Regions from separate parts of the Homo sapiens genome. Here regions 1 and 3 are each linked to region 2. The links come from fine-mapping of genetic effects on gene expression. A gene starts in region 2. Each other region holds a variant in brackets. All regions are shown on one strand. Distances are from middle to middle.

The links. PIP is the estimated chance that this variant, and not a neighbour inherited with it, causes the effect.
Region 1: its variant is fine-mapped to the expression of ZRSR2 in blood mononuclear cells (TOPMed, PIP 0.93).
Region 3: its variant is fine-mapped to the expression of ZRSR2 in nucleus accumbens (GTEx, PIP above 0.99). The same link has a PIP of 0.9 or more in prefrontal cortex.

What each region holds. Positions count from the first base shown.
Region 1 is chrX:15,766,650-15,769,329 of GRCh38, reverse strand. The region is part of intron 3 of CA5B (carbonic anhydrase 5B); the gene reads right to left. It overlaps CA5BP1-CA5B (CA5BP1-CA5B readthrough), which reads right to left. Exons shown (of 12, transcript NR_160544.1): 7 at 37-687. Among named protein-coding and RNA genes, the nearest start is that of INE2, 20 kb to the left of the region's middle. RefSeq lists an enhancer at 1-142. The variant A/G (reference allele first, on the strand shown) is at 1,154.
Region 2 is chrX:15,789,281-15,791,960 of GRCh38, reverse strand. It overlaps ZRSR2 (zinc finger CCCH-type, RNA binding motif and serine/arginine rich 2), which reads right to left and starts at 1,477. Exons shown (of 11, transcript NM_005089.4): 1 at 1,425-1,477; 2 at 948-1,027. The coding sequence starts at 1,465. RefSeq lists enhancers at 1-491, 1,150-1,599.
Region 3 is chrX:15,824,073-15,826,752 of GRCh38, reverse strand. It overlaps AP1S2 (adaptor related protein complex 1 subunit sigma 2), which reads left to right. Exons shown (of 6, transcript NM_001272071.2): 6 at 1-947. Among named protein-coding and RNA genes, the nearest start is that of AP1S2, 29 kb to the left of the region's middle. The variant C/T (reference allele first, on the strand shown) is at 1,513.

The DNA.
Region 1 (2,680 bases), 23 kb after region 2:
CCCAGGAGAGGACTGCGGTATGAGATGTTCACATACCTTCTCTTATAATCCTATCAAGGTAGGTAGGTCATGTTGTCCTCTCTTTCATTCCAGAGTTTAGTAATTTGAGTCTTCTTTTATTTTTTTCTTGGTCTCCCCCAATTAAAAGTTTGTGAACTTTGTTGATCTTCCCAAAGAACCAACTTTTGATTTCATTGATTTCTGCTCGTTCTTTATTATGCCCTTCTCTCTACTTGCTTTTGGGTTTAGTTTGTTCTTCTTTTTCTAGTTTCTTAAGGCGGAAAGCTGAGATACTGACTTGAGAAAGTTCTTCTCTATTGTAGGCATTTTCATCTATACATTTCCCTCTAAGCACTGCTTTAGCTGCATCCCAAAAGGACTGGTATGATGTTTTTGTCACATACCTTCCCCAGCTCCTTTTCCTTGCACTTTATTCCAATCCTCACAAAGCACACTGTGGCAGCATTTCTTAGGGTTTTGTCTTTGAAATTTATAGACATCGATATTTATTAGGTTTTTACTTTTCTAGAATTGTTTCTTGCCTTTGTTTCTAAAATGTCTTGCTTTCTTTCACTTTTTATTTTTTATGTTCATTCACTCTTTTTTTCCTCTTTGCATGCTATTGATTGTTTTGCAACAACATGGAGAAATAGCAGCAAAGAATAAACAGGAAATAAGAGGCAGTCACTGAAAGGTGGAAAAAGAGAGAGAGAGAGAGAGAGAAAATTAGGTAATTACTAAAAATTGATGCTATCTTAAAGAAAATAATTATTAAAGCATAATTTAAAAGGGCTATCAGTTTTAGTTCTTTCTAACCAAACAAAAAAATTAGCAAACTCTCTACAAGTTTTCTTGCATATTTTGTAAGTGTGTGACTGACACTCCCAGGGAAGACAGGTTCAAGGGGTGATTTAGTCAGTTGGGTTTGTAGGTATCTAAAAAGAAGCTATTATGACAAAAACGTTGATGACTTGTTTTCCATCTAAGATTACTCATGCAAATGGGTAGATAAGAATTCTTGAGGCCTGGCTCGGTGGCTCATACCTATAATCCAAGCACTTTGGGAGGCCGAGGTGGGAGGATCACTTGATCTCAGGAACCCCATCTCTACAAAAAATACAAAAATTTGCCGGAGCTGGGAGCAGTGGCTCAC[A/G]CCTATAATCTCAGCACTTTGGGAGGCCAAGGTGGGCAGATCACTTGAGGTCAGGAGTTTGAGACCAGCCTGGCCAACATGGTGAAACCCGTCTCTACTAAAATACAAAAATTAGCCAGGTGTGATGGCATGTGCCTGTAATCCCAGCTACTCAGGAGGCTGAGGCGGGATAATTGCCTGAAGCCAGGAGGTGAAGGTTGCAGTGAGCCAAGATCACGCCACTGCACTCCAGCCTGGGCGACAGAGTGAGACACCATCTCAAAAAAAAAAAAAAAAAAAGGCCAGGTGCAGTGGCTCACACCTGTAATCCCAGCAATTTGGGAGGCCGAGGCAGGTGGATCACCTGAGGTCCTGAGGTCAGGAGTTCGAGACCAGCCTGGCCAACATGGTGAAACCCTGTCTCTACTACAAATACCGAAAATTAGCAGGGTGTAGTGGCAGGCACCTGTAATCCCAGCTACTCAGGAGGCTGAGGTGGGAGAATCACTTGAGCCCGGGAGGCAGAGGTTGCAGTGAGCCGAGATCACGCCATTGCACTCCAGCCTGGGCAACAAGAGCAAAACTCCGTCTTAAAAACAAAAACAAAAACAAACAAACAAACAAAAAAATTAGCCGAGCGTGGTGGCACATGCCTGTGGTCCCAGCTACTCGGGAGGCTGAGGTGGGAGGATTGCTTGAGTCCAGGAGGTTGAGGCTGCAGTGAGCTGCAATCATGCCACTGCACTCCAGCCTGGACAACAGAGCGAGACTCTGTCTCAAAAAAAAAAAAAAATTCTAGAATCTATTGTTCAAAAGAAAAAGAGAGGACTAAAAGATAAAACAGCTATTTACCCTGAAAGTTCTTGGGCTCAAGTCACTTAGTTAAGAAACTCATTAAGCAACTTTCTAAGACTTCCAACTCAATGAAGCAATGATATATTGGCAACAGACAGTCCCTATACTGTCAAGGGCTTTAGAAAGCTGACCAATACCAAGGATCCCCAGAAGAAAGCAGGCTGCTAGGGCCCTAGATGGGGTTGAGAATTCAAAAGGATTACTATGCATGCAGAGTAAATGGATGAGGGTTGGTATCCTATAGACTGGGTCTGCCCATTAGTTTACGTCTGGCAAGGATAATGGTAGAGCCCCATGGGGGACAAGTAGAGCTCACCAGAGTGCCAGACAGTCATCCAGAACACAGGAATTTAGCTTGTTGTTTTGAAGATTTCTGGAATCCGTATAAACAAGGTAATATTATGGACTTCCAGTTGAGAAGGGGGCACACTCTAGAGTTTTGGGGAAATTAAGAAAGATGCATGATGAGGGGTATAATAAAAGCCCAGACTTCACCGCTACACAATATATCCATGTAACAAAACAAAACTAAACTTATACCCACTAAATATATTTTAAAAGAACATATATCAGTATCATTTTTCTTTCTTATCTTTTTTATTCCTCCCTTCTCTAGCTATTCCACCAACAGACCCAGATGGCCTTAAACAATGTTTCCCAAAGGATGGCACATGAGATGGTTTTATGTGGTAC
Region 2 (2,680 bases):
GCCAGGGGCGGTAGCTCACGCCTTTAATCCCAGCACTTTGGGAGGCTGAGGTGGGTGGATCACCTGAGGTCAGAAGTTCGAAACCAGCCTGGCCAACATGATGGGGTTTCACCCCATCTCTACTAAAAATACAAAAATTAGCCGGGTGTGGTTGCGCACGCCTGTAATCCCAGCTACTCGGGAGGCTGCAGCAGGAGAACTGCTTGAACCCAGGGGGCGGAGGCTGCAGTGAGCCAAGATCGTGCCACTGCACTCCAGCCTGGGCAACAGAGCGAGACTCCGTCTCAAAAAAAAAAAAAAAAAAAAAGAAAAGAAAAGAAAAAATTAGCCAGGTGTGGTGGTGAATGCCTGTAGTCCCAGCTACTAGGGAGGCTGAGGTGGGAGGACTGCTTGAGCCTGGGAGGTGGAGGCTGCTGTGAGCCGTGGTTGTGCACATCCCTCCTGGGCAACAGAACAAGACCCTGTCTCAAAAATAAATAAATGAGCTTCATAACTAGTATTATGTTGATATATATTTGAATAACATAATAATTTGGGTAAACCAAGGGTCTCATATTAGTCAAGTTTGAGAAAAACTTGCAAAACGTCTAATTAATACCTTCAACTCCTGCTGGTTTTACGAAGAAAAACATTCACCGAATACTTACTACGTGTGCAAGGACTGTGCTAGCTGCTGTAATTCATGAAGCTTGCAACTGTAATATTAGATACTTTATAAGTTACACAGAATCAGTGGGCGATCATTCACCAAGACTTCCTCTTCCTGCCTTTAGTATGTTAACATTGTTTCTGACATGTGTTTCTAAATAACTACTTGGGGGCAGAAGTCACAGCTATTTTTCCTCCGACACAATATTTGACTTCCTTCTGACACTGGGGCTTCAAGTTAGGGCTGGAGTGGACAGAGCAATTTCACAACACAGAAAACAGAATAAAGAGTCCATCACCTGAGTCTCTCAGTCGAGCAAGTTCCTGCCGACGTTTCTTTCGTTTCTCCTTCTTCAGGGCGGCCCTGTACTTTTTGTGGCTGGAAGATTAAGACATATACACGACGATCAGCGGCTACAATGCAGCGCTGCCCGAGCTCCCCGCTCCTCTGTGCCCAATGAAAGGAAATAGTTCGGGTGCTGAGGAGAGAAACCTTGCTTCCTGTATTTTAATTACAGAACAGCCATCTATCATCGCCTCATCCTCCCACTCCCAGACAGTTCTTCTCCATCCGCCAACCTGATCCTCTCCTCGCTTGCCTGAGCCACAGCCGCCCGTGCAAGTCCGGGGAGGGCACCAGAGCGCGCACCAGGAAGGAATGGAGCTGCCGCGGTGGCTCACTTAGCTTGGCCCAGCTTCTCTTTTCTTCCTGCCACCACATCCTCCATGCCCACGATCGGCCCGCTCGCCTGCTCATCTCCCCGTACGGCGCTTACCTTGGTTTCTCGGGAAACGTCATCTTCTCGGGCGCAGCCATCTTGCCGGCACCGCCCCGCCCCTCCAGGTCTGGCAGGAAAGGGCGGGCCTAAGAGTCGAGACGGGCACGCGCAGGCGCGGGTACCGAGCAACCTCCACCAGCGTGGGACTTGAAACGGAAAGCCGGAGGTACCCTTCGGCGGCTCGTCTTCCAGAACCCTGCTCAAATAAATACCTCCTTCCAGCAAAAATACTCTGGGGCTTTTACCCCGCCCTAGAAGTAATTGTCGCTTCAGCACTTGCCCAGTGCTGTATCACTGTCTCCCTCCTCGCCCTAGCAGGACGTGTTGTGGCTAGGCGGTTAAAGTCGTACTCTGCCGCTTTTCTCAGCATCCACTCATGAAGTCACATCGCGCACAGAGCTGCTCGCCCGGCTTTATTTCCGACCTGTCCAGGTTCCGCGTCCTTCCGCCGATCCACCTATCAGCGCCTCAGACAAAGCTCCAGACTTCGCTCCCTGCCAGTCACACCTGTTCTGGTCCCTTAAGCAAACCTAACTCCCAGGGCTGCAAAGCTGTTACCTCTGCCCCTGAGGAGTTTACAATCGAGGGGGCAGAGAAGAACCAATACATAATATGATGCAGGCAAAGATGAAGTTTACCTAACATAGTCCACCAAGGGATTCAGGGAGAGCTCTCTTTTTTTTCCTTTTTTCTTTTTTTTTCAGTATCACATGCGACTCAACTGCAGTATCAGGGACAGCTTTCTGATGCTAAGAGTTGAGTTTGGAAAGAAGATGCCCTTTACCCAGAAGGAGAAGGGTGGGAATGCAGTTACAGTCAGATCAGCATAAGCAAAGGCGCTGAAAGGTGAAAGTGGAATATGCTGGGAACAGCAAGAATTTTGGCAATCGAATTTATTTATTTATTCATTTCTTATATATTAGAGACAGGGTCTTGTCTTTCACCCAGGTTGGAGTGCAGTGGCGCAATCACGACTCGCTGCAGCTTCGACCTCCTGGGGTCAAGCAATCCTTCCACCTCAGCCTCCCGAGTAGCTGGGAATACAGGCGCGAGCCACCACGCCCGCCCAGCTATCCAATTTAAAGTGCAGTTCGAGGCTGGGTGCAGCGGCTCACGCCTGTAATCCCAGCACTTTGGGAGGCCTAGGCGGGTGGATCACCTGAGGTCAGGAGTTCGTCAGCCTGGCCAACATGGTGAAACCCCGTCTCTACTAAAAATACAAAATTAGCCGGGTGTGGTGGCACATGCCTGTA
Region 3 (2,680 bases), 35 kb before region 2:
TGACTAAATTGGAGTGATACTTCTTACACTAAAAATTATTTCTTAGGCATTCTGAATCTGGGATGAGAAACAGGATTGTTTCACAATAGTAAGCACATAATTTTTAAGGCCAAGGCACATTTGACTCCTGAGATGAATTTTTTGTGGTCATAATCAAATACTTAGTTGTTTTTGATGCCCCAAAATAAAGTGAGAATGGTAATTTGCCAGGAATTCTTCATAACAGTATCTTACAAAAAACGTGTTGCTCTCTTCACAGTATTATGTGTAAAGTCATTGTTTAAAGCACGAATGTTCCCTCTGGGGTACTTGTTAAAGCTAAATTTATTTTGCTTCCCTCCACTTAGAAGTGCTGCACACTTTACAGCAGCTTCCTTTCTTTCCATGGCACTGCCTAGTTAACAGAAGTCTTATAAAAATTTAAAAAGACACATTTCTTACAAAAAAGAGTTGAATGAGGTAAAATGGCATTAGATGGCTCTATATTTTTTAAAGCTATGTAATTGTTCAGCGTCACTTTTCTAAGTACTTATACATATCTAAACATGTCTTCATGGTTTATATTTTCACTTATATATGCTGGGCTGGATTAAGCTTTGTTGTGATTGTGACCAACATTCAGGCCACGTGAGCACTGTCTTATCACATCGCCAATTAGTTGTAATAAACGTTCAACGTACAAACACTGGAGTGTGTTTTTATCTCTTTCCAAAAGTTTGTCAAACTATGCAGAGCTGCTGAAGGAAGAATTTCTCATTTTTTTTTCAGTAAAATGTTGAAAATTCCCCTCCATTTGAATATGGTGGTTGTTATAAGCACACACAAGATACATGGTGGAAGATCTAAGGAGTCTTCATGTACTTCATTAAAAAATAACATGGATTCCATACTGAGAGCCTATCTACACATTTATTTTCAATCAATAAATGCTGCTTTTAAAACCTTGATGCAGTTGACTTTTCTACTCTTTCTGAATGAACAACTTAGACTGTTACTCAAAAGGTATTTCAAATCAACTGGATTCCTCTTACCCCCTTGTGAACTGAAGGTGCTAGCACATGCAACAGAAAGGGACTAATACTTGCAGACTGTACTACCTAACCTATGCAACAAATCAAATCTATGGTAATCATGATAGTTAAGGGACCTCCTATTACTACAGATAGGAAATGTTACATTCTAAAACTGGGCTATTTAAGAAGGAGGCAGGAACTACCATCAAATTAAGTTGCTAGTCTACTGGAAAAAAAGACGTTTATAGGTTTAAAAAGCCTCCAACATGCAGCTAGCTATTCACTGAAAACAGGCCTGTGGGTTTCTGCTAGCAATGTATAGTTGGAATTTTTGAAACATAAATAGTAATCAGGCAATATATATTAAAAAAAACTAATAAATTTAAGTTCAAGATGGACATTTATCAGGATAATGAACCAGTCAGTGGTTTAAAAACTTCCTGCCCTTCTACCCTGCCTATTAACATTTGAGGGGAAAGTCATCAATATCTCAGTTGTC[C/T]TGAGCTCAAGATGGTGGTTTTCTTTCTTAGCCTCCATGATTTATTAAGATTTCAGCTTTGCAGACCACATTTAATTGCATATATCTTGACTGTATTTAGAAAAGTATTAAAAAATACTGAATTTAATGATAATTACTCGGCGTTACTGAAATCAGTAGATAGTTCTAGGTCAATCATTTTCAGGGTGAAGCAGGCATTTAGAGTCTGGAACAAATCCAACTTTTTAAAGTGAAATTATCCTGGGCCACATGCATGATTTCTTTTATTGACTACACATGAAAGAACTCTCATCCTTAACAGATATCATGCAGAAATTCCAATTTTGAGGAAACTTTCTTCCTACTTAAATTTCGTTAACGTTTCAGTATTTTACGTATGTTTTAAGTCCTTATTCCCAAATCTCAAATTGAAAAATGTCACATACTCCAAAATTCTAGATCCCAAATATGTCAATGGAAAGAAAGCGACAAAAAATTGATAAAGCTGGAGAGCATCTTATTTATGATCAGAAATCTAGGTATAATATTTTGCCTGAAGCTTTTTCTGCATTAGGTTCTATTCTCTGACCATTCTGTTGAGATTTTTATACCAGGATTGCTTTAACACTAGGCATATTTAGTACCAATGACCCTAATATTCCTGGAAATGACAAAAATAAACTTTACTCCTATATAAAGAACTTTCCAACACACTATTTAAAAAAGTACACGACAGCCCCCAGCTGAAGAGTAGGAGGAAAAAAAATGGACTTTGCCCATCAGTACTTTAAAACTGAGAAAATGAACTTTAAAGCAAAAAAGCTGTTCAGCTATTACATATAGAAAAATCCAATAGATTATTAATAAAAGGCAAACAAGCAGGGCTCACCTGTAGTTTCAGATATTCAGGAGGCTGAGCCAAGAAGATCGCTTGAGCCCAGGAGTTTGAGGCTACAGTGCACAATGATCATGTGAACAGCCACTGCCCTCCAGTCTGGGCAACATAGCAAGACCCTGTCTCTAAAAAAAGGGGTAGGGGGCCAACAAGAATAAAAAAACATTAAATATATGAACACATAAAATTTATCAAATTGGTAAGGATTAAAATTACTTGGCGTTGTGGGAGCAGCAAAGTTTATTGACATAATAAATTTTTTATAGTCTTCTGGCAGGCAACTTGGAAATATTT